Homo sapiens: one gene and its partner. Changing the gene in region 2 together with the main gene of any one other region gives a genetic interaction. Each region holds a gene or a part of one and is shown on either strand. Other genes may lie near its edges.

Region 1 (3,500 bases), on a different chromosome or scaffold from region 2:
TTCCACGGCCAGGGCTCCTGCAATCACGGCCAGTCCTGGACGACTCACAGTGCACTGCTGGTCCAAGGTCCGGTCTCTGGTTGACTGCAAAGAAACAATCATTGGTGTGTGCAGAACGTTCTACTCCATTCAACTCTAGCTGTCTCAAGTATGAAATCCTCTGTGACAAAGCTTTAAATTATAACCAGATGCTCATTGTTGGCAAAGAACATCCAGCCTCAAGTACATCATTTCTTGAGATTATCAAGATAAACAAAATATACAATTTAGGTAACTAAATGAGGTGATATGCTAAAAAGGATCAGTAGCCTAAACAGATTGGGGGATATTAACCAAAAATGAGGGCTTAGCTGCCTCATATAATGGAACTGCATCATGTGTTCCTTTAAGTGACTCAATTCAGTTCTACTGTGCTTGGTAGTTAAGTGACAGAGACACAGAAAGGAACAATGATTTGAAAAGTGCAAATGATTCTGCCCTGCCATTTTAACTGAGCTAACACCTCAAAGTGACCGTGAGATGGGAGCAACAATTTACTATTCCTGCGGCCCTCAGTTCCTATGTGCCTCTCACAACATGGGCATCACCTCTCTGTGTGATTCTAGGGTTTACTACAAGTATTTTTTTTTTCTACAACATGGCTCTAAGCACAAGCCTTTGCTGGTTCAACCAAAGAGAGTCTAACCATCCAACTCTGGGCAAATTAAGAGGTTGTTAGAGATATTTTTGACTCTATAAAAATTTTACCTTATGAGCAGATGGGACTTTACTGCAAGGGACCACTAATCGTATTTGTTGACAATCACTAAATAACAAGACCAGCTATATATTATAACACCATAACAGAGATCATCAAGCCATCTTTCTCCATAAAAGAGAATGGTCATCTTCTTTTCTTTATATTGGGAGGGCATAAAAGCCAGTCATCCAAAAGAGATATGAGTTATTAAGGGAAAAGTTTTAAAACAAAGGAAAAATAGAGGGGAGGTTACAGAAAACATCTCTGCATTGTTTCACTGGAAATCGTTATCTGTTCTGATAAAGGAACAGACCTACATACAGACTGACTTGTGTGGAGTTCTGAAAGTCATAGAATCTTAATTTGTACAGTGTAGTCTTGCTGTTCAAAGCACTGTCGCACTTGACCCACTTTGCACTGTGAGTTGACAGGGCAGGTATTCTTCCCTCCTCTATTAGCATTGCTAGGGAGAATACAAGACACTCAGTTAAATTTGAATTTCAGATAAATAAATTTTTAGTATAAGTGGGTCTTGAATATTGCATGGGACATATACCAAAAAATTATTCATTATTGGCTAAGCGTGGTGGCTCACACCTGTAATCCCAGCACTTTGGGAGACTGAGGCAGGTGGATCACGAGGTCAGGAGTTCGAGACCAGCCAGACCAACATGGTGAAACCCCGTCTCTACTAAAAATACAAAAATTAGCTGGGCATGGTGGCACACACCTGTAATCTCAGCTACTCAGGAGGCTGAGGCAGGAGAATCACTTGAACCCAGGAGGCAGAGGTTGCAGGGAGCCGAGATTGTGCCACTGCACTCGAGCCTGGGTGACAGGGCGAAACTCTGTCTCAAAAAAAAAAAAAAAAGAATTCATTATTAACTGAAATTCAAAGTTAGCTGGGAATCCTATATTTTTACTTACTAAATCTGACAAGCCTACACATCACTCCTATTTTGCAAAGGTAGAGGGAACCTAAGAGACTTTTTAGAACTACCTGGGAGGCAGTGTCAAGCCATTGATGGAATCTGGTCTTTAGACTCCTGATTTGTAATGTTATCTTGACTAAGAGAAGCACCGGAGACAATACGGAGTGCTATCAGGGACTAGTCTGCTGTGGTTTCCTCAATAAGCTTTCCAAAAATATGGTTTGTAGCCGCGTTTATATTGGTGAACAAGGAACAGGTGTACAGTTGATGACGCCAGTCAAGGTTCATAATGAGATAATGCCATCCTCCCCAAATTGGAGAATTCTTCTCTTTGTTAAAAGATAATATTTAAATAGTCATAAATGAAAGGGCCAAGTCGGTCTGCCTCAGTGTACAAGTTGGTGATAGGAAATATTTGGAACTATAGAGAAATCCACTTACATCTCCTGGGGCCACCACATCATTGCAGAAGTAGCAGCCAAGCTTGTAACCAGGGATGTTGGCAAAAAGCGATGAGCCCAGGAGGTCAGCAGATGCCACAGGGTGGTTTGGACACAAGTCCCCAGCTCCTTGCTGCTTTGGTTTCTTCAGACCATGTCTCATGACAACAAATGTGTCAAATCCCAAAGCAGCATTGATGACCAGCTGCAGGTTTCAAGGAATGAAAGAGCAGAGTTAAAAGACACATATATTTCAAGCTGTGGCTAATTCCATATTTGCTCAACTTTTTAAAATTTATTTTTTGCATGTAAGTGTAATTAGATTATAAAAGCTAATGATGATAAAATCTACCCACTACTGAGGGCTTATTAATTACAAAAGACTTGATAAGTGATGAACATAAATTATCTCATTTAATTTCATTTGAAACTCATAACAGACCAGGTATAGTGGCTCATAACCTGTAATCCCAGCACTTTGGGAGGCCAAGGCGGGCAGACTGTCTGAGGTCAGGAGTTCGAGACCAGCCTGGCAACATGACGAAACCCTGTCTCTATTAAAAATACAAAAAATTAGCCGAGCATGATGGCTTGCGCCAGTAGTCGCAGCTACTCAGGAGGCAGAGGCATGAGAAATGCTTGAACCTGGGAGATGGAGTTTGCAGTGAGCCGAGATTCCGCCACTGCACTCCAGCCTGGGTGACAGAGCAAGATTCTATCTCTGAAAAAGAAAAAAGCAAACAAAAAAACTCATAACAAACATTTCTTATTTATAGATGAGGATACTGAAAGTCAGAGAAGTTAGTTCTATAACTTGCCCAAGGTCACTTATCTGGCAAGAGGTAGGTATATAAAACCAAGTCTACATAGTTCTCAAACACATTCTTTCCACCATTATGCTATACTGTCATGTTCACATAGATTTGTTTTTATAACAGCTTTATTGAGATATAACTCACATACCATATAATTCACCCTTCACATAGAATTTTTTTGGTATCCCAGTAGCTGGAATTACAGGCACATGCCACCATGCCTGGCTCCGCATAGTTGGTTTTTTTTTGTTTTTTTGTTTCTTTGGGGTTTTTTTGAGACAGGATCTCACTCCGTTGCCCAGGCTGGAATGCAATGGCGTGATCTCGGTTCACTGCAGCCTCAACCTCCCAGGCTCAAGTGATCTTCCTGCCTCACCCTCCTGAGTAGCTGGGAGCACGGGTGTGCATCACCACACCTAGCTAATTTTTTGTTTTTCTTCTAGAGAGAGAGTCTCACCATGTTGCCCAGGCTAGTCTCAAACTCCTGGGTCAAGCAATCCTCCCAAAGTGCTAGGATACAGATGTGAGCCACCATGTCCAGCCCAACACATAAATTTTTAAGAAACCGTTTTTT
Region 2 (3,500 bases):
ATGTGACTTCCTTTCCCTGACTGTCTCCCACAACCAGGGCCTGCTCCCTGAGAGGGGGCAGCCCTGTTTTAAACACAACCAAATCCCTGAGTATTCCTTATCCCTGGCTCCACCCAAGCACCATCAACACTAGCCCATTTTCTCCATTTCACTTGCTATACTGCAAGGCTGCACCCTGGTCTGGGAACCCCTTACCCCCCCAGCCTGGGCTCTCACCACTGGTTCAGAAGCTTCAAAAATCAATGACAAGTGGGGAAGAAAATCCCCACTGGGAAGTGGAAAAGAAACTTTCGTCATGTGGGGGCTGCAAAGGACCCAGGGCTTGGTCCCACCTCCCTCCCAGGCTACAGTTTGCCTTGGAATCAGCTGGGAGAGGAATGGTTTCACTCTATGAAGTTGTGTCTCTGGTTCACATTAAAAAATATTTCCATCCTATTTGCATGAATGAGAGAGAGTGTGTGTGTGTGTTTGTGCGCGTGCACGTGTGCATGCAACGTCAGGACATTCAGATAGAGACCCTCAGACAGTGGGTCAGGGAAGGGCATAAGGACCCTCTAGGCCAGTGGAGAGTCAAATAGAGACCTCAGACTGGAAGTTGAGAGACCTAAGTTCTAACCCCAGCTCTGCTGACTCACTATAACCAAGCATGAGGCATTTACGCTTGCTGGGCCTCAGTTTTCCTATCCAGGAATTAGAGATTAAAATGGTTGTTACAAGAGCACTAGGTGGATGAACTAAGACTTAAAGCTCCTTGGAGGCAGGGGGCATTATTTGTGCCCAGCGGATTACGTGGGAAGCCTTGACATTCAAAGCAGAACTCCTGGGCCTGTAATCTTCAGTTCCACACAGAGCAGGAGAGTGGGTGTTGACAGTATGACTGAAAAGCCCAGCACTGGGCTGGCCCAGGCAGGAAGGCAAGGAGGGAACTCCGGCTGGCTGTCACAAGGCCCAAGAGACTGGAAGTACAGCTCTCTAAAGAGGTGGTTATCAACTAGCAATCAGTAAATCAGCTCTCAAAGGAGAGGGGAAGGACAGCGTAGCTTCCGGGCTGGGAAGGGAACGAGGACCGACACTGGAAAAGGATGATGAGTATGGTAGTGTCCAGAAACAAGCAGAGCAAAGGCAGTGTGGTATAGGGCCAAGAGTACTGGATACCTGACTCTGATGTCTTGAGTTTATCTGCCGACCTTGACCCTTGATAAAAAAGCCCTCATATGGTATAAGCCTTTATAGGTCACATGTTATTATGTCATTTGACCTTTATAACAACCTGTTAGTACTATGCCTATTCTACAGATGAGGAAACAAATTCAGAACAGTAAAAGTAACTCAACATCACACAGCTAGTTAGTGTGGGAGCCAGAACACAAACCCAGTTTTGTGACCCAAAGTCCTGTGTTTTCCTTGGTGCATCATACAGTCTTCAAGTTACCCCTTACCAGCTAACTGTGTGACCTTGATCAGGTAAGTTACTGCCCTTCCTGGAGCCTCTGTTTCTTTATCTGTACAGTAGAAGTAATAATAGTACCCCTCCCAGCCTCAAGGGCAGCATCAAGGAACCTGACCATGGGAATGAATACACTTTGTAAACTGAAGTGCTGTACACACAGGAGGTGACAGGAGCAAAGCCTTTCATCCCAGAAGGCAGGAAGCACTGAGTATGCCTGTATCTGTGGTAGGGGATCAGCCCAGTCCTCCCTACTCAGGTCTAGTTCAGACCTTTATCCTCTCTCCCAAAACAACTCTTCTTTCTGAAATCCTCTGGCCTGAACTGGGTTGAATAAGTTACCATAGCCCATTTCAGGAGGGCATATAGAGTCTAAACTGTGCCAAACAGGAAGAAGGGATGTCAGTGCTGCAGGACACCAAACCAGGAGTGTGACCTATCTGGAGCGGGGTTCAACAATGACTTATTCACTAAGTGGCTTTTTCAAAAGAATCATTAAGCCCAGCTCAGTGGTGCACCTGCAGTCCCAGCTACTAGGGAGGCTGGGCCCAGGAGTGAAGGGTTGTAGTGTGTACACTAGTCAAGGTTATCGTCCCTGTGAGTAGCCACTGCACTCCAGCCTGAGCAACACAGCAAGACCCCATGTCTCAAAAAAAAAAAAAGTTATTTAGTAAATCAATGGTTGCCAATCTGTTTTGTTTTGTTTTTTCTTTTGGAGCAAGGTCTTGTTCTGTTGCCCAGGCTGAAATGCAGTGGTGCCATCACAGCTCACTGTAGTCTCAACCTCCCAGGCTCAAGGCATCCTACCTCAGCCTCCTGAGTAGCTGGGACTACAGGCAGGCACCACCACACCTGGCTAATTTTTGTATTTTTAATGCATCTTTTTGTTTGTTTGTAGAGACAGGGTCTTGCCATGTTGCCCAGGCTGGTCTTGAACTCCTGGTCTCAAGTGATCCTCCTGACTAGCCCTCCCAAAGTGCTGGGATTATGGGCGTGGGCCACCATGCCTGGCCAGATCTGTATGTTATTAGACAAATTACAATGACTTATTCTGGCTTTTTAGTCCCAATTCAGATCATGCCTGGTCCCTCATACTGGCATTCAGAGTTCTTCACAATTTGATAAGGGATATTAGAGTTACGTAGACTTGGGTTTGAATCCTAGTTCTGCCTCTTACCAGCTGTGTGACCCTGAGCTTCTGATGATTTGCCTCTCTAAGCTTCAATTTCCTTATCTTTCAAATGCAGTGGCAACGTACAGTACCTACCACATAGCACTGTTATAAGGACTAAGTGCATTAATGTATAATATGTGCACAATGTAGGTACTTTGCAAGTGTGAGTTCCCAGCTCCCTGTTCCAGAGGGATTTTCAATGTCCTCTGCAAACAAGCCAGGATCATTCTTGCCTCTGAACTTTTACTCTTTGTTTTTCCCTCTGCTGCCATTCCCTCTCCCTTCTCTAATCTTCCTTACTCCTTAAGGCCTAACTTAAGTCTCACAGTTGCATAAGGTTACTGAATTCTTCTTTGGATATCCATTGCATGGCTACCTGTCGCCCAGGTTAGAGTGCAGTGTCGCGATCTCAGCTCACTGCAATCTCCACCTCCCGGGTTCAAGTGATTCTCCTGCCTCAGCCTCCTGAGTTATTGGGATTACATGCATGTGCCATCATGCCCAGCTAATTTTTGTATTTTTAGTAGAGACAGGATTTCATCATGTTGGCCAGGCTGGTCTTGAACACCTGGCCTCAAGTGATCCACCTGCCTTGGCCTCTGAAAGTGCTGGGATTACAGGAGTAAGCCACTGCACCCATGGCCACCCCTTTTAACCCTGCTTTGGCTCTGTGTGATTCTCCTTTTCCAACAGTCATACGTAAGTTTCCCAGCTGTACATGCCCTTCAGTACTGAAGCCTTGGCTTCTCTGGACTAAATGACAAAAAAAAACCTCTAAGTATAGGGCTAGGCACACAGGACTGTACAACCATTGCCTTTTGATCTGCTTGTACCAGCCCTCATCACTGAGATATGGAGAGACTTCTCTGAAGCCCAGTA

The links. Genes that interact genetically often act in the same process or in processes that back each other up.
Region 1: of RHOG (region 2) and ATG7, changing one enhances a phenotype caused by changing the other (phenotypic enhancement), as found in Homo sapiens cells (one large-scale study listed by BioGRID).

The regions. Positions count from the first base shown.
Region 1 is NC_000003.12:11,359,397-11,362,896, reverse strand, and holds part of ATG7 (ubiquitin-like modifier-activating enzyme ATG7), read right to left. Parts: intron 2,317-3,500; coding exon 2,113-2,316; intron 85-2,112; coding exon 1-84. UniProt on the Homo sapiens protein: E1-like activating enzyme involved in the 2 ubiquitin-like systems required for cytoplasm to vacuole transport (Cvt) and autophagy.
Region 2 is NC_000011.10:3,830,960-3,834,459, forward strand, and holds part of RHOG (rho-related GTP-binding protein RhoG), read right to left. Parts: intron 1-3,500.